Homo sapiens: one gene and its partners. The protein of the gene in region 1 purifies or fractionates together with the protein of each later gene. This does not show direct contact. Each region holds a gene or a part of one and is shown in the gene's direction. Other genes may lie near its edges.

What was found. The genes of interacting proteins can lie anywhere in the genome.
Region 2: the proteins of ALAD (region 1) and FKBP10 fractionate together in Homo sapiens (co-fractionation; one large-scale study listed by BioGRID). This does not show direct contact.
Region 3: the proteins of ALAD (region 1) and TXNDC5 fractionate together in Homo sapiens (co-fractionation; one large-scale study listed by BioGRID). This does not show direct contact.
Region 4: the proteins of ALAD (region 1) and PPME1 fractionate together in Homo sapiens (co-fractionation; one large-scale study listed by BioGRID). This does not show direct contact.

Annotation. Positions count from the first base shown.
Region 1 is NC_000009.12:113,390,825-113,396,156, reverse strand, and holds part of ALAD (delta-aminolevulinic acid dehydratase), read left to right. Parts: exon of another isoform or gene 1-699; coding exon of another isoform or gene 700-750; intron 751-2,519; exon of another isoform or gene 2,520-2,522; coding exon of another isoform or gene 2,523-2,597; coding exon 2,598-2,710; intron 2,711-3,821; coding exon of another isoform or gene 3,822-3,987; coding exon 3,988-4,038; intron 4,039-4,533; coding exon 4,534-4,630; intron 4,631-5,223; coding exon 5,224-5,332.
Region 2 is NC_000017.11:41,815,088-41,819,503, forward strand, and holds part of FKBP10 (peptidyl-prolyl cis-trans isomerase FKBP10 precursor), read left to right. Parts: intron 1-1,970; coding exon 1,971-2,116; intron 2,117-3,001; coding exon 3,002-3,191; intron 3,192-3,294; coding exon 3,295-3,440; intron 3,441-4,122; coding exon 4,123-4,312; intron 4,313-4,416. UniProt on the Homo sapiens protein: PPIases accelerate the folding of proteins during protein synthesis.
Region 3 is NC_000006.12:7,904,289-7,908,704, reverse strand, and holds part of TXNDC5 (thioredoxin domain-containing protein 5 isoform 1 precursor), read left to right. Parts: intron 1-3,981; coding exon 3,982-4,131; intron 4,132-4,416. UniProt on the Homo sapiens protein: Protein disulfide isomerase of the endoplasmic reticulum lumen involved in the formation of disulfide bonds in proteins. Can reduce insulin disulfide bonds.
Region 4 is NC_000011.10:74,173,373-74,177,788, forward strand, and holds part of PPME1 (protein phosphatase methylesterase 1), read left to right. Parts: intron 1-4,416. UniProt on the Homo sapiens protein: Demethylates proteins that have been reversibly carboxymethylated. Demethylates PPP2CB (in vitro) and PPP2CA. Binding to PPP2CA displaces the manganese ion and inactivates the enzyme.

The DNA of each region.
Region 1 (5,332 bases):
TGGCACGATCTCGGCTCATTGCAACCTCCGCCTCCCAAGTTCAAAGGATTCTCCTATCTCAGCTTCTGAAGTAGCTGGGATTACAGGCATGTGCCACCACACCCGGCTAATTTTTTTTTATTTTTAGTAGAGATGGGGTTTCACCATGTTGGTCAGGCTGGTCTCAAACTCCTGACCTCAAGTGATCCACCCACCTCGGCCTCCCAAAGTGCTGGGATTACAGGCGTGAGCCACCGTGCCTGGCCTAATTTTTGTATTTTTAGTAGAGACGGAGTTTCACCACATTGGCCAGCCTGGTCTCAAACTCCAGACCTCAAGTGATCCACCCGCCTCAGCCTCCCAAAGTGCTGGGGTTACAGGTGTGAGCCACTACGCCTGGCGCCTGTCTTCTTCTAATATGCCTCTTCTGACCTCCTCACTCCCATTGGAGCCATGGCTCACTTCTGGTCAGGCTCCATGCACTCAATCAGCCCTGCCTGCCAGGACTGTAGTGCCCACTTGATGAGAAATCACCTGTGAAAATGCCAGGCATGGTCTGGCACACAGTAGGTGCTCAAGAAACAAATGTTAATGCCCCAGCTTCCTTCTGTCTTGTGTCCACTAATTTGGCATTTGGAGCATATTTTTGTACTTCACGTAATTAAATATTTACTGTGTGCCAAGGTCAGTGTGTGACAGAGCACTGTAGGGGAGGCAAAAATGAACCAACTCTGGACCTTGCCCTGCAGAAGCTCTGTCTACTGGCATGAGGTAAGACAGGTCCACAGATAACTTACATAAGAGAGACTGCAATCTGGACAAGACAGCCTCAGTGGGAGAGGGAAGGAGAACCCTGTAGATTTGGGTGCGGGGAGGCTGTGGGGAGAGCACAGCCTTTCAGGTAAAGGGACAAGGTTAGGAAAGCAAGAAGGTGTAGCTTGTGCTCGTGGAGCCCAGGAAACTCCTTGGGCTAGAAAAGATTTGGTGGCACTCTATACAGTGTATGTGTCTGTCTGTCTATCTAACATGAATGGTACTATTTTCTCCTATTGGTGTGCATTGTACCTAACAAAAAATCCATGTCCCAAGTACTTTTCTCTTTTCTTTCTTTCTTTTTTTTTTTGGAATGAAGTCTTGCTCTGTCGCCCAGGCTGGAGTGAAGTGGCGCTATCTCGGCTTACTGCAACCTCCTCCTCCTGGATTCAAGCAGTTCTCCTGCCTCAGCCTCCCCAGTAGCTGGGATTACAGGCACGCACCACCACGCCCAGCTAATTTTTTTTGTATTTTTAGTAGAGGTGGGGTTTAACTGTGTTGGCCAGGCTGGTCTCGAACTCCTGACCTCAAGTGATCTGCCCATCTCAGCCTCCCAAAGTGCTGAGATTATAGGTGTGAGCCGCCATGCCCGGCCAACAGTACTTTTCTCTAGAGGTAGAATTGCAGGGGATTTTTCTCTTTTTGCTTATCTGCACTTTTCTAAAAGTTCTGCCATGAACACGGGCATTTTTTGTGGAATAAACAAAGTTTAAATGTTGGCTAGATCAGTGCTTCTTTATGCATAAGGAAGGATTAGTTCTTTTTTTTCTATTTCCAATTTATTGATTCTTTGATAAAATGCAATGCAATAAAATTATTATTTTTTTTTAGAGACGTCTCCCTCTCTCACCCAGGCTGGAGTGCAGTGGTGCAATCATAGCTTACTGCAACCTTGAACTCCTGGGCTCAAGCGATCCTCTTGCTTTAGCCTCCTGAGTAGCTGGGACTACAGGTGTGGACCACCACACCTGGCTGATTTTTAAACTTTTTGTAGATACAGGGTCTCGCCATGTTGCCCAGGCTGGTCTCGAACTCTTGGGCTCAAGCCATCCTGCCACCTCAGCCTCCCAAAGTGCCGGGATTACAGGCGTGAGCCACCATGCCCAGCTAGAAAATTACTTTTTTGGCTAGGCACCGTGGCTCACGCCTGTAATCCCGGCACTTTGGGAGGCTGAGGCAGGCAGATTGCTTGAGCCCAGGAGTTCGAGACCATCCTGGGAAGCATGGCAAGACCTCCATCTCTACAAAAAATTCGAAAATTAGCTGGATGTTGTGGTGCACACCTGCAGTCCCAGCTACTTGGGAGGCTGAGTTGGGAGAAACAGTTGAGCCCGGGAGGTCAAGGCTGCAGTGAGTCGAGATTGCACCACTGCACTCCAGCCTGGGCGACAGAGACCCTGTGTGAAAAAAAAAAAAAGAAGAGAATTTTTTTTAAACAGTCATTGCTTGCTCAGATGTTTACTTTAAAAGATAATAATGAACAAGAAGCAGTCACATAAAATACAAGCCCAAATTTTATATCATTAGATTCTGATTGTCATGAAAGTTTCTAAAGACTTACTTTCATTTCTCAACTTACCTTGTTGACCAGCAGGGATTGGTGAACCATGCTGTGAGTAGCATTGGGCTAGAGAGAGGGGAGGCAGGAATCTAGAAGAGCTGTTTTCCAGATGTGACCATCTCCTGAGGACAGGGACCATGTCTCATGTGCCACCCATCACCCCCCACAGACAGAGCCTGCAGCCAATGCCCCAGGAGCCCTCGGTTCCAACCAACTGATGCCCCTGTGCCCACTGGCCCACGCCATGCAGCCCCAGTCCGTTCTGCACAGCGGCTACTTCCACCCACTACTTCGGGCCTGGCAGACAGCCACCACCACCCTCAATGCCTCCAACCTCATCTACCCCATCTTTGTCACGTGAGTCTCCAAGAATGGGCCAGGCCTCTGCTCTGCTGGTTGGGGTTGGGGTTGGGGAGGGAGTGTTGACTGGAGCGGGCATCAGTATGGCTGGGGGTGGCAAAGTGAGCTGTCAGCTTGAAATTCAAGGCACTGGAAGCAGGCTACTTGGATTAAGGACAGGAATCTTAGGAACAAAACAAACTTTGAAAGAACTCATTCATCCCATTTGGAAAATTAGAAGAATAACCCTTGCCTGCCATCCTGAGCTCTTGCAGTAAGACAGAAGCTGAGAAGGTGCTCTGTACATTGTAAAGTGCTATGTACCTGTAAGAGATGGCAGTCATTGAGGCTGGGCACGGTGGCTCACGCCTGTAATCCCAGCACTTTGGGAGGCTGAGGCAGGCGGATCACGAGGTCAGGAGATCGAGACCATCCTGGCTAATATGGTGAAACCCTGTCTCTACTAAAAACACAAAGAAATTAGCCAGGCGTGGTGGCGGGTGCCTGTAGTCCCAGCTACTTGGGAGGCTGAGGCAGGAGAATGGCGTGAACCCGGGAGGCGGAGCTTGCAGTGAGCCGAGATTGCACCACTTCACTCCAGCCTGGGCGACGGAGCCAGACTCCATCTCAAAAAAAAAAAAAAAAAAAAGAGATGGCAATCGTGATTGTTAATAATAATGCAGACATTTACTGAGTACTTACTATCTACCAGGTACTATGCTAAGCACCTACACACATTATCTCATTCAATTCTGAGAGCATTTGTATGAAGAAGGAGTAGCTATCCTCTAGAACATCAGCTCCATGAGGGCAGGGATGTTTGTCTATTTTGTTCACTGTTGTATCATCAGGGCCTAGAACAGTACTTGGCACATAATAAGTACTCAATAAATATTTGTTGAATGAATGAATTAACCACGCATGATATAGATGAAGGCCTAAGGCTCAAAGAGATGATAGAACTTGGCCACGGTCACCCAGGCAGTAAGTGGCTGGGATAGAAAGCAAGGACCTGCCAAATTCAGAGTCCAAGTTCTTAACCACTTAATTCCTTCCTGTAATTACCGTTCTTTTAGTACAGTTGCTAGTGTTGTCACTGTTATTCTTGTTGTTCCTATTATTATTTCAGGCCCTGGGCTTGGCCAGGCAGGGAAGCCAGACACTGGATCCCATCCTCCTCCCACCATCTCCACTTCCATATTTCTTTCCTGCTTCCCAACCATCCCTCTCAGTCGCCCCCGCACCACTGGCCCTTCCCACAGCTACCAATCCATATCCCACCCCCGCTCTTGCAGGGATGTTCCTGATGACATACAGCCTATCACCAGCCTCCCAGGAGTGGCCAGGTAGGAGACGTGGAGTTGGGGGGCCAGCGGGTGGTGGAGGGAGAGATTCCACAGGTGGAAGTGCTGGGAGGCAGAAGCAGACCTAGGAAGTAGAAGATGCGGACAGACAGACATTAGCTCAGTAGAGGAAAGGGTTTCCCCGGGGCCAGAGCTGTTCCACAGTGGAAGGGGCAGCCCCATAAAGTAAAGAGCTACCCATCACCCGAGACGTCGTGGCAGAGGCTGTTGCAGAAGGGAGCTGAACTGCAGATGGGAGTTCAAAAAGAGGGCCTCGAAGGAGCCTTCCACAGCCGAATTCCGGAGCTCTGCTACTCAGGGCCTCAGTCTTCCCTCCTATTTAGTGGATGCATCCCTGCCCCTTCTGTCCTGGGGGCTTGAGCCCTCCTGGTGCCATATGCAGCTTGGTTTCTAACAGAGGCACACAGTGTGGTGGGGTCCGGAGGACCGTTGCCTGGGACCTGCCTTCCTTCAACCCCTCTACCCACACCCACACAGGTATGGTGTGAAGCGGCTGGAAGAGATGCTGAGGCCCTTGGTGGAAGAGGGCCTACGCTGTGTCTTGATCTTTGGCGTCCCCAGCAGAGTTCCCAAGGTGAAGAATCAAAGGAAGGGCTAAGAAGGGAGGTTGCGCTCACGCCCGTAATCCCAGCACTTTGGGAGGCCAAAGTGGGTGGATCACTTGAGCCCAGGATTTTGAGACCAGCCTGGACAACATGGCAAAACCCATCTCTACAAAAAATACAAAAGTTAGCTGGGTGTGGGGGTATGTGCCTGTAGTCCCAGCTACTCGGGAGGTGGAGAGGTGGGAGGATTGCTTGAGCCCAGAAAGTCGAGGCTGCAGTGAGCCAAAATCGCGCCAGTGCACTCTAGCCTGGGTGACAGAGCAAGACCCTGTCTCCAATACAAACAGAAAAAGGAAGGGAGGTTGGGCAAAGGTGGACTGAGGGTCCACACTGACTGCACCCTCACTCCCACATTGTGCTGGCCCTGGGGCCACAGGTGAATGGACGTGGTCTTTGCCCTTAAGTCAGCACCCATGTAGGGTCAGTCCTCTGTGCTTCCTTATCCAGGGGCTGTGATGATGAAGGAAGGAGAAGGCCAGGGCTATGCTCTGTGATGGCTGTCATCCTGCCTTCCAAAGCTACATGTAATAGACACACTGCTTTGTCCCTCCCCTGCCCCTAGGACGAGCGGGGTTCCGCAGCTGACTCCGAGGAGTCCCCAGCTATTGAGGCAATCCATCTGTTGAGGAAGACCTTCCCCAACCTCCTGGTGGCCTGTGATGTCTGCCTGT
Region 2 (4,416 bases), on another chromosome or scaffold:
TTTTGTATTTTTAGTAGAGAGGGGTTTCACTATGTTGGCCAGACTGGTCTTGAAAAAGGCGGGTGGGTATTATAAGAAGACAGCCAGCTGGACCTGGGGGTAGGGCATGGCTCCCTGCGGAGGCCCTGTCTGTCTACGTGTCACACAGTCAGACATGCCACCCCAGCCTCGTGATCCGCCCACCTCGGCCTCCCAAAGTGCTGGGATTACAGGCGTAAGCCACGGCGCCCAGCCTTAATTTTTCATATTTTAGTAGAGATGGCGTTTCACCATGTTGCTCAGGCTGGTCACAAACTTCTGAGCTCAGGCAATCCACCCTCCTCAGCCTCCCAAAGTGCTAGAATTACAGGCGTGAGCCCCCGCGCCCACACAACTTAGAAAACTTTTTTTTTTTTTGAGACAGAGTCTTGCTCTGTCCCCCAGGCTGGAGTGCAGTAGCGCGATCTCTGCTCACTGCAAGCTCCGCCTCCTGGGTTCACACCATTCTCCTGCCTCAGCCTCCCGATTAGCTGGGACTACAGGCGCCTCCACAATTTTTTTTGTATTTTTAGTAGAGACGGGGTTTCACCATGTTAGCCAGGGTGGTCTCCATCTCCTGACCTCATGATCTGCCCGCCTCGGCCTCCCAAAGTGCTGGGATTACAGGCGTGAGCCACTGCGCTCGGCCAGAAAACTTTCTTAACCCATGGCCCCTTCAATTAAAAAAAAAAAAATCTCCCATCCTCACTTTACTTCTGAAAACTTAAAATAAATTAAAAGTGTATATAATTGGCTGGGCACAGTGGCTCACTCCTGTAATCCCAGCACTTTGGGAGGCCCAGGCAGGCAGATCACTTGAGGCCAAGAGTGACCAGCCTGGGCAACATGGCGAAAGCCCTCTCTACTAAAAATACAAAAATTAGCCAGATATGGTGGTGCATGCCTGTGATCCCAGCTGCTACTTCGGAGGCTGAGGCAGGAGAATCGCTTAAACCCGGGAGGTGGAGGTTGCAGTGAGCTGATTGCACCACTGCACTCCAGCCTGGGTGACAGAGCCGAGACTCCATCTCCAAAAATACATATGTATAAGTAAAAATAAATACATTAATTAAAAGTGTATAACTAAAAACAAACAAAAGCCATGGCACTTTTAGAATAGGCTTTTTTTTTTTTTTTTTTTTTTGAGAGGGAGTCTCACTCTGTCGCCAGGCTGGAGTCCAGTGGCACGATTTCGGCTCATTGCAACCTCCGCCTCCCGGGTTCACGCCATTCTCCTGCCTCAGCCTCCTGAGTAACTGGGACTACAGGCGCCCGCCACCACACCTGGCTAATGTTTTGTATTTTTAGTAAAGACGGGGTTTCACTGTGTTAGCCAGGATTGTAGAATAGGCCTTTTCAAAATGTGAAACCAGCTCCCACCCCACCTCTGCTCTCCCGTCTTTTCTTGGAGAGCCAATAGTATAATGGCAAATTTTAGAACTCAGCTGACTACATATTAGCTGTGTGACCTTGGGCAAGGCACTGAGTCTCTCAAGTCTCCATTGCTCTCATTAAGAAAAATGAGAACAAGAATGCCCACCTCACAGGGGAGACAAAGAAGATACGGAATGTAAAATGCCAAGCATTTAATCCCATATAGTAATGCTCCTCTGCCCCTCCGTGCTGTACGTACCACTCCCCACTTGCTGTCAGCAAATAGTAGCAGCCATCAGGCCCGGGCATCCCACCCAACCCCGTCCCAGGGCAATAGCAGCCCTTGTCCTCCTCAGGGACTTGCCTTTCACAACAGTCCGTTCTCTTAAGGTGGGCGTCACGGCCGACCTAGGAGGGGGACTTGAAAAGGAGGTGAGAAGTGTGTGTGCGTATCCACACCTGGCTATAGGGAGGGGGGATTGTGTGCGTGTGTGCAGGCACACCTGTGCATCTGTGCCACCATGGGCAGTGTGTGTGTGTCTGAGGTCACTGTATCCCATCTGTCCCTCCCCCCCCAGCTATGATCGCAACACCTTGGTGGCCATCGTGGTGGGTGTGGGGCGCCTCATCACTGGCATGGACCGAGGCCTCATGGGCATGTGTGTCAACGAGCGGCGACGCCTCATTGTGCCTCCCCACCTGGGCTATGGGAGCATCGGCCTGGGTGAGAAGGGCTGGGGCACAGGCCGGGGGTGGAGGAGACCACGAGGCAGAATCAGGGATCCTGGGGTGAGAAAACTGAAGTGCGGAGATGAGGAGTGACTTGCCCAATGTCACACTGTGCACGCAGTATGAAGAGTGGCAGCTCTGGCTGGGGCAGTAGCTGACATATATGGTCCCAGAGTTTTGGGAGGCCGAGGTGGGAGGATTGCTTGAACCCAGGAGTTCCAGACCAGCCTAGGCAACATAGTGAGACCTCGTCTCTACAAAAAATAAAATAAATTATCCAGGTGTGGTGGTGTGTGCCTGTAGTCCCAACTACTCAGAAGGCTCAGGTGGGAGGATTGCTTGACCCCGGGAGGCTGCAGTGAGCCATGATCATGCCACTGAATTCCACCCTGTGTGACAGAGCAAAACCCCTCTTTTTTTCTTTTTCTTTTTTTTTTTGAGACAGCATCTCACTCTGTTGCACAGGCTGGAGTTTAGTGGTGCGATCTCGGCTCACTGCAACCTCAGCCTCCTGGGCTCAAGCAGTCCTCCCTCTCAGCCTCCCAAATAGCTGGGACTACAGGTGCACACCACCACACGTGGCTAATTTTTTGTATTTTTAGTAGAGATGGGGTTTCGCCATGTTGCGCAGGCTGGTCTTGAACTCCTGGGCTCAAGCCATCCACCTGCCTTGGCCTCCCACAGTGCTGGGATAACAGGCATGAGCCACTGTGTCTGGCCCCCTATCTCTTAAAAAAAAAAAACAAAAATAGTGGCATCTCTGTCCCTGGTTTGGGTCTCTTGGTGCTGGGATGAGAGGAAGGGGAATAACAGGGCCCTGGCTGGGATCGTGGTTGGCAGAGCAGAACTCTGAGACCTCCACGCTGCTGCGCTCTCACAGCGGGGCTCATTCCACCGGATGCCACCCTCTACTTCGATGTGGTTCTGCTGGATGTGTGGAACAAGGAAGACACCGTGCAGGTGAGCACATTGCTGCGCCCGCCCCACTGCCCCCGCATGGTCCAGGACGGCGACTTTGTCCGCTACCACTACAATGGCACCCTGCTGGACGGCACCTCCTTCGACACCAGGTGAGGGGCTGGAGGGGAGCCCTGAGGCACTGGGGACTGTGGCATGGGGAGCGGGAATCCGGGGCCCAGCCTGCCTCTCCCACCTCCACCTCATTTTCTGCAGCTACAGTAAGGGCGGCACTTATGACACCTACGTCGGCTCTGGTTGGCTGATCAAGGGCATGGACCAGGGGCTGCTGGGCATGTGTCCTGGAGAGAGAAGGAAGATTATCATCCCTCCATTCCTGGCCTATGGCGAGAAAGGCTATGGTGAGGGTGGGCAAGGACACAAGGGGAAATTCCGCAGAAGAGGGAAAAACCAGGCCTCCACATACAGTTGCTCAGGTTGTATACTGCACGAGGGCATCCAACCAAGGACTCAAGGTGGGATGAAATCTACCCTTGGTGCTACTAAGAAGGGGTGCTTTGGCCGGGCGTGGTGGCTCACGCTTGTAATCCCAGCACTTTGGGAAGCCAAGGCGGGAGGATCACGAGGTCAGGAGATCGAGACCACGGTGAAACCCCGTCTCTACTAAAAATACAAAAAAATTAGCCGGGCGTGGTGGGGGCGCCTGTAGTCCCAGCTACTCGGAGAGGCTGAGGCAGGAAAATGACGTGAACCCGGGAGGCGGAGCTTGCAGTGAGCCGAGATCGCGCCACTGCACTCCAGCCTGGGTGACAGAGCGAGACTCTGTCTCAAAAAAAAAAAAAAAAAAAGAAGGGGTGCTTTATTCTGATTCACACGAAGGCTCAGTATGAGCCGGTGGTGGCCCTGGGGAAAACCCAGCTCAGGTCTTACTGGAGGAGCAAGAAGCAGGGCTGCTGATGGGCGGGAAAGGGCTCTGGAGAGTGGGGCTAGTGTCTTGCATGGTGCCCACTGGGCCTTCCTGAGTCAAGAAGGAGCCTCGGCTTGCTCCCCAATTTTATGGTTCAAGCCCTATCCCTTCCCCAGGGACAGTGATCCCCCCACAGGCCTCGCTGGTCTTTCACGTCCTCCTGATTGACGTGCACAACCCGAAGGACGCTGTCCAGCTAGAGACGCTGGAGCTCCCCCCCGGCTGTGTCCGCAGAGCCGGGGCCGGGGACTTCATGCGCTACCACTACAATGGCTCCTTGATGGACGGCACCCTCTTCGATTCCAGGTCAGGAGGGTCTTGAGGTGGGAGGGCGGGGGCTGGGTGAAACGTGGACGAAGCTGGGGGTCACTCTGAGCTGCCTGGAAGGGGAGGGCCCCTTTGACTCCCTT
Region 3 (4,416 bases), on another chromosome or scaffold:
TCATCACACCCAGCTTATTTTGTTGTTGTTGTTTTTGTTGTAGTTGGTAGAAACAGGGTCTCGCTATGTTGCCGGGGCTGGTCTCAAACTCCTGGCCTCAATCAGTACTTCTGCCCTGGCCTCCCAAAGTACTGAGATTACAGGCATGAGCCATCGCATCCCATTCTTTACTTTTTTTTTTTTTTTAAAGAAAAACTGACATGCAGATGTAATAAGTCCCCACAGTGCCAAAGGAATTTTAAGTTTAGAATCTTTGCAATAAATACCAGCTAGTCCTGGGCTGAGTGAGAGAAAACTGGCACATCTGGGCACTTGGTATTAAGTAAATTCCTTTTCCATTATATGTGGCTTGTAGACATTTAGCTGGATGCTTCCAGAATAATTAGCTTTATGTTGTTACTTTTTTTTTTTTTTTTTTTTTTTGAGATGGAGTCTTGCTCTGTTGCCAGGCTGGAGTGCAGTAGCGCAATCTTGATTTACTGCAACCTCCACCTCCTGGGTTTAAGCGATTCTCCTGCCTCAGCCTCCTGAGAAGCTGGGACTACAGGTGCGTGCCACCACGCCCAGCTAATTTTTGTATTTTTAGTAGAGATGGGGTTTCACCATGTTGGCCAGGATTGTCTCGATCTCTTGACCTCGTGTTCTGCCCGCCTCTTCCTCCCAAAGTGCTGGGATTACAGGCGTAAGCCACCGCACCTGGCATATTTGTTGACTTCTTGATAGTCTACTACAAATACTTAAACAGAGATATGTGGGTTTCTATGATGGTGTTTAAGTTGGACTTTTAAGAGGGCCCTTTCAGAAAACTGCAGATACTGCAGTAGGGCTCACGAATAGGCTGCCAGGAAAGGAGGCTGAGTGGGCGGCGAGTCAAATGGGAGGTCAGCAGGGGCAAGATCAAGTAGGACCAACAATACCTGGCACAACACTTTGGTAAGTTGTAAGGCTGAGAGCAAGGTGGTGACTCTGGAGGGGTCTATGCAGGAGAGGGAAGGAGGTCCTGGAGTGGTGAGCTGAGCGTTTGGAGCTCAGATAGAAGACTCAGTGGACTCCCCCTCAACACACACATACCTTTTTCCAGTTTCAGCTGCCGTGGAGTGGTGAAAGCCCACGTGTGATTAAGGGGCTGGGGCCCCTGTAACAAAAACATCAATCTGTGTATTTTTGCCCTGCACTTGGCTTCTGCAGGGTTATCCTGCTGCTGTAGATTTTTTGCCAACATCAGGTCACAACTTCTGTATGGCCAGTTTGTGAGTCACCCTGAACCTGGTGACAGTGAGGTCAAGATTTGGACCAGGTAGCTTTGCTCTACTTCTTGGCCACAGGCTACCTTCTGAGTGCAGCTGCCTGTCTCAGAGTTGGGTGCTGTAGCCGCAGGGCCGACTAGATAGCACCTGTGGCCCCATCACAGCCAGGAGCAAGGGCACGCCCAACTTGGTGATGGCCCAGAATGGTCAGTTTTGATTTAGCGCACCACAAACTTATTTATTGTTTATTCTCATTCTTAATCTAATCTTGTGTTTTCTCAAAAAAAAAAAAGGGAAAAAAAAAGCAGTAGCAAAACAAAACCTTGTCAAGATTGCAGAGGAGTTCTAAAGTTCCAGAATGAGCATATCTGATCAAAGTCCCCTGAAGGTCAGAACTGCCCTTGACAGTCCCTTAGGAAGGTGCCTTGTTGGACACCGCCCCAGTCAGTCAGTCAGTCCCCACTGCCAGCGTTTCCTCCAGCATTAGAACTATCATGGCTTCTTTGGTTAAACACCAAATGGACTAGTTCTCAAACCTGTGCCTTTAGACAGCAGGGTCACACTTAATGTAGTCGGAGAGATGCTCATGCCATGAGAAGCATGTAGGAACCAAGGCCTGCTGAGGAACAAAAACCTCACATCTCCCAGCTTGCACACACTTCAGGGTTCTGTGGGAATTGCCTTTTTTTTTTTCTTGTTTCCTTCTCCCCCGCCACATAAACTCACTTTGTTGAATCTACAGAAGTTAAATCTGCATGTATAGTTTCATTGTGCTTTTTTTTTTGTATCTGAGTATCTCATAAAGCAGGGATTCTCTTAGCTGGCCAAGAAAGTGCTGTTTAGGGAAGACACATTAACTTGAAGCAGACTTTTTCAGTGCTACCTTTAAGTCTGTTTTTCTTTTTTTTTTTTTTTTTTTTTTGAGATGGAGTCTTGCTCTATCGCCCAGGCTGGAGTGCAATAGCATGGTCTCGGCTCACTGCAACCTCCGCCTCCCGGGTTCAAGCGATTCTCCTGCCTCAGCCTCCTGAGTAGCTGAGATTACAGGCGTGTGCCACCATGCCCAGCTAATTTTTGTATTTTTAGTAGAGATGGGGCTTCACCTTGTTGGTCAGGCTGGTCTCGAACTCCTGACCTTGTGATCCGCTTGCTTCGGCTTCCCAAAGTGCTGGGATTATAGGTGTGAGCCACCACACCCGGCTTAAATCCTTTTTTTCTTAAGAGACAAAATCTCTGTCACCCAGGCTGGAGTGCAGTGGTGTGATCATAGCTCGCTGCAGCCTCAAACTTCTGGCCTCAAGTGATCCCTCTGCCTCAGCCTCCCAGGTAGCTAGGACTGCAGGTGTGTGCCACCACACCAGGCTAATTTTTTAAAATTTTTTGTAGATGGGGGTCTCACTGTGTTGCCCAGGCCAGTCTTGAACCCCTGGGCTCAAGCAGCTCTCCTGCCTTGGCCTCCCAAAGTGCTGGGATTACAGGCATGAGCCACTGCTACCGACTTAAATGCTTATTTTTGAGGTAATCTGTCAGAAAATAAAAGGAGATTTAACAGATTATTAAATTATTTTGAGGAAGAAGTCACAATTCTAAGCGTTGAGTGTTCATATAAGCAAGTGTGTTTAAAAAAAAAGCATTTTAAAAAGCGATACAGCAAAGTGGTTACATTGTAGGCATCAGTGTGTTCCTGCCATATTAAATAGCAAACAAACCCATGTGTCATAATGCTATGGGATTGTAGTTGAAACCTGGGATAAAGTTTCTAGGGTTGTCTCATTCAAAATTCGAGTATGGCACTGTAGACATACTGTCCAGAGAACACAGCAAGAGCTGTGGTCAGCTGTATGACTTAAGGTCTAGTGTTGGGAAAGATGCTGATATCCTCATGAAATGTGAAGCATGGCAAGAAGCCTAGTTAAGATACTATTTTAAATGATGGGTGATTTTAAAATATTTATACATAACTGAATTCATACAATGAATACTAAGAATAGACATTTGCTTACTTCAACCCTAGAAGTATAGGTGGCCACAAACTTTTTTTTTCCCCTTCTCATTGGAGAAAATTGCAGGTGATTAAATTTTGAGATTGCCTTATGTTTGTAGCCATTTGGTTATATAGTGGAGGAGACTTGACGAATAAAAGTAGCAGATACAGCAGGAAGTGCTAAGCTACTGTCCAAGGGAGGAGTAGAGAGGCTTTCCAGAAGGGCAGGAGAAGAGAATGGGTGCTGAACAGCCCGGGGAGTCAGGGCCAACTTGCTAGAGGAAGTGACACCCAAACTAAACCTGAAGGGCAGATAGATTTAGCTAGGTGGAGTTTAGGGACGAAGTGTCAGAGAGAATGTGTCCCAGGGCCAAGCCAAGCTATAGTCCTTTGGGAACACTGCAGATGCTGCAGTAGGGCTCAGGAGTAGGCCACAAGGGAAGGAGGGTGGACTCTGGGATAGAAGTCAAGCGGGAGGTCAGCAGGGCCAGAACAACTAGGATCCAGAACAACACTTTGCTAAGTTTAATACTGGAACAAGGCCAAGATTTCATGCTGAGAACAGGGCAGTGACTCTGGAGGGATGGGAGCAGGGGAGAGAGGTCCTGGAGTACTGGTCCAGGAGCTGCCATCTGCAATGGTGTAAAGAAAGGACTGAGAGCCCCATTGTCCCCTGGACAGAGCTGAAGTTGTGGGCCAGCTGCCCTGTGACCTGATACTCAATGTGCTTGTACTCTTGCCTTGTTCCAGGTGTGGACACTGCCAGCGGCTGCAGCCGACTTGGAATGACCTGGGAGACAAATACAACAGCATGGAAGATGCCAAAGTCTATGTGGCTAAAGTGGACTGCACGGCCCACTCCGACGTGTGCTCCGCCCAGGGGGTGCGAGGATACCCCACGTAAGTTGGAAGGAAGGGGGCACACTTCCTAGGTGGCTCCTGGCTACAAAGAAAGTCCTAGTTAAACTTTTGGTAAAGGTGTGAAGAGATACTAAATTTAAGCAGGCAGTCCCTGTCATTAGGGAGAAACTGCATTTAATGCTGTGTCTGTTTTAGATGGCTTTTATACTTGGATAACCTTTAATTCATCAGTGTTGGGTTTTCCTGTTTATAAGAGAATGTGTTTGCAAGAGAAAAATGACGGTCCCGCCATGCTAGATGTTCACCGGTACATTTTACACAGTG
Region 4 (4,416 bases), on another chromosome or scaffold:
ACATTCCTTAGATAAGCTTAATTAGAGCTCAGCTTCTCATCTTGGAGAAACAAGTTCTCTGAAGATTGAAGAACTGAATGAAGATACTGAGAGAAAAAAAAAGGAAAATCTGCTGATTAGAAGATTGTATAATTGTTAGTAATTTATCGTTTTTATTTTTTATTACTTTTCATTTTATTTTTTTTTAGAGACAGAGTCTCACTCTGTTGCCCAGGCTAGAGTGCAGTGGCACAATCTCGGCTCACTGCAACTTCCACCTCCCGGGCTCAAGTGATTCTTGTGCCTCAGCCTCCCAAGTAGCTGGGATTACAGGCATGCACCACCACGCCCGGCTAATTTTTGTATTTTTAGTAGAGAGGGGATTTCGCCATGTTGGCCAGGCTGGTCTTAAACTCCTGGCCTTAAGTGATCTGCCCCACTTGGCTTCCCAAAGTACTGGGATTATAGGAGTGAGCTACTGTGCCTGGACAACTTACCTTTTTAAAAAGATGCTTTGGTCTTCTTGGTTTAGGTTAACTGCTTATCCTGGAAAAGAAAGTTCTTTAGAAAGGCCTTTCTTTATGATAGTATTGTGAAGAGAAGAGCATATATTGGCGAATATTTGTGTGGTCCTCAAATGGCTTATTTTCCCGTATCTTTCTTTTCTACTTTATTGGTATATAAGCAGGCTTCATCTAAGTCTCATGGTAGTAATAATATAGATTCTCTTTCTCCTTAGAATCATAAAGCTGAGAGAAAGCATAGACATGGTCTCATTTCACCACTTCATGTAGTTGAGGAACCCAATATTCAGAGAGTTCTGTATTCTATAAGGGAATGTATTAATAAATGAGGGAACTGAGACTCAGATATTCCTAAGGTACCCTAGAAGCTTAGCGGTAGGGCCGTTAAGGACTAGGACTTGGGTCTCTTGACTGTGAGACCCATTGTGTATTTTGGAGTCATAATTGTCATCTGGGGATACTTATTTTGAGTTGTGTATCTTACTCATTTGCATATAATCTAGGATTCAGTCTTTTTCTTCAGTCGTAATTTATGAAGTCTCACACCAATTTCAAAGCATTCTTTATGTCTCCTTATGCTTACTTGCTTTTTTCTTAACTTCCATTCTTCCACTCTATCTATGTTACTCACAAGTTAGTCCTGTTCTCTTGATAGTCTCTTGTGTGGCTTACTCTTAACTATTTTTCATGATCTCTTGCCTTCAATTTCACTAAACATTATTTAGGCATGTTTGCATATTCAGGGTGCATATTCTGAGTTGGTGATTTTTCATGAGTTTCCATAATTCAGTTTTTCAGATTAGATTTAGTAATTCCAAAGTATTGTTGGATAATTTAATAATAGCAATTTTTAAAGTAAGTACTGTGTGCCAGACATTGTAATGGTAACTTTATGTTATTTAATGTGTCCACAGACCTGCATGGTGAATATTTTCCTGCATTGTGGGTAAAGACATTCAGACCCAGAGATTAAAAGTAACCCAACTAGTAGGTAGCAGAGCTAGGATTCAATCTAAGTTTAGTCTCTAGAATCCATTCACTTTTCAGTACACTAATATTTTCTCTTGGGTAAGGCCTGAAATCCTGGTGTCACTCTTCCTTTTAATAGATGCCAATGGATGTTGCCAAAAACAGTGGTTTTGAACTTCTTTATTAAAGCTTTTAGAGCTACTCTGACTAAAGTAGATTTGAGATCCCTATTTGCTTTGCACCCCTGGTGTGCTTGAGAGAAGTATCTTTTGAAAGTCACTGCTTTCGTATATACTATTACTATTAGAGGAACTATAAAATATTAAAGCCATTCATTATTCAACGTGTTTTTGGTTTATCAGTAGTTGTACTTTTTGGCCAGGTGTGGTGGCTCATGCCTGTAATCTCAGCACTTTGGGAGGCCGAGGCGGGTGGATCACCTGAGGTCGGGAGTTCAAGACCAGCCTGACCAACATAGAAAAACACCGTCTCTCCTAAAAATACAAAATTAGCTGGCGTGGTGGCACATGCCTGTAATCCCAGCTACTCAGGAGGCTGAGGCAGGAGAATCACTTGAACCTGGGAGGCGGAGGTTGTGGTGAGCCGAGATCGCGCCATTGCACTCCAGCCAGGGCAACAAGAGCGAAACTCCATCTCAAAAAAAAAAAAGTTCTACTTTTCTATTATTATCTCTTAAATTCCTTTTTTTTTCTTTTGCAAGAGATAGAGTCTTGCTGTGTTGCCCAGGCTGAAGTACAGTGGCTTTTCACAGGCATAATCTTGGTGCATTACAACCTCAAACTCGTGGGCTCAAGCAGTCTTCCCACTTCATCCTCTTGAGTAGGTAGGACTGAGGATACATGCTAGCATGCCCAGCTCTGTAGTGATTTAACTGACATGTATATAGTAGTCCCTTTTTATATTCTATGAGGTAAACTAGGGCAGGAGTTAATATTTTCTTTTAATAAATGAGAAAACTGAAATGTTCATTGACTTGCCTAAGATCACAGAATCATTATGTGGCAGGAACAACATTCAAACCCAGGACTTCGTATTTTTAGTCCATTGTTCTTTCTATAGCTTGCATTGAAGGGTTTGATATTTGAAGTGACAAAGATCTAAGTTTGAAGCCCAACTTAGGTATTTACATTGGTCGAGTCATTTAACTTCTCATAGTCTATTTTCTTATCTCTAAAATGAGAATACTTCTGCTTACCTGAGAGTGCTGTGAGAATAAGATAATACATAAAAAGCACTTATAGTTCCTGACACTGACACATAAGCTCTTAAAGAATGATAGCTAGTAGATAATTATACATTGAGAACTGTGAAGAAGGTTCATAGTTTATGTGGAAGCTCTCCTTTCAGTTTCTTATGTTATCAGCTTTTTTGTCCCCACAAGCTGTATGTTTATTCATATCTGATTAGATAGTCTTTCATCCATCTTCTTAAATTTATTATGGATATCAGGCCTCTTAGGAAGGCTTTAATGAGCTATTCACACAGATGGGGAAATAAAGGGCAAAGTGAAGTGATTTGCTCAAGGTCACAAATTGAGTTACTAAAATAATCAAATCCCAGTATTTCTGTTTTTTTTTTTATTTTTTCATTAGATTTTTAAAAAGTTAAATTTATATGCCATAGAATTCACTCTTTTAAATGTACAATTCAGTGATTTTTGGTATATTCACTCAGTTGTACAATTACCACCACTAATTGCAGAACATTTTCATCCTCCCATAAACTCGTTACTCATTAGCATCTTCCCTTCCTCCCAGCATGTATTGCTTCTGGATCTTGAGTCACAGAAAGGCTTTTCCTTTTTTTGGGTTATAAAGGAATCATTTATATTTTTTCCTGGTACCTGTGTAGTGTCCTTTTTTTTTTTTTTTTTTTTTTTGAGACAGAGTCTTGCTCTGTCACCGAGGCCGGATGGAGTGCAGTGGTGTGATCTTGGCCCACTACAACCTCCACTTCCCGGGTTCAGGCGATTCTCCTGCTTCAGCCTCCCAAGTAGCTGGGATTACAGGCATGCACCACCACACCCAGCTAATTTTTGTATTTTTAGTAGAGACGGGGTTTCATTATGTTGGCCAGGCTGCTCTTGAACTCCTGGCCCCAGGTAATCCACCCACCTCAGCCTTCCAAAGTGCTGGGATTACAGGCATGAGCCAATTTTTTTTTAATCCATTTGAAGTTTATCTTGATATGCAAAGTGAGGAAAAGAAGACATTTTATTTTTATCCAAAGGCTATCTAGTTGTTTTCATCATTTATTAAATTTTTTAGTCCTTTACCCATTACGTAAATTTCACTACAATAAAGAAATAGTCCTGGCCAGGCTCAGTGGTCCATGCCTGTAATCCCAGCACTTTGGGAGGCCAAGGCATGTGGACCACTTGAGCTTGGGAGTTGGAGACCAGCCTGGACAACATGGTGAAACCTCTTCTCTACAAAAATCACAAAAATTTAGCTGGGTGTGGTGGTGTGTGCCTGTAGTCCCAGCTACTCTGGAGGATCATTTGAGTCCGGGAAGCAAAGGTTGCAGTGAGCCAAGATAATGCCCCTGCACTCTAGCCTGGGACACAGAGTGAGACTTTGTCTCAAAAAAAAAAAAAAAAGTCTTCTTTCTCACTGATTAAAATGACACCTTTGTCATATGCCAAATTTCTATATAAATCCGGGTCTGTGGAGTTTCTTTTACGTGCCACTACTGTACTTTTAATTAGAGGATTTATTAATATGTTTTGATGGGTGGTAGAGGTTGTTTACCCCTCATTCATTTTGAGGATTTTCGTGGTTCCTCTTGTTTTTTTCTCACAAATAAACTTTCTAATCCCATAGACTAGTGCCAGAAAAAAATCCTGATAGTATTTTTATTGGGATTACATTAAATACAAACATTAATTTAGAATAAACGTTTTTATGATGTTGAATGTTCCTTG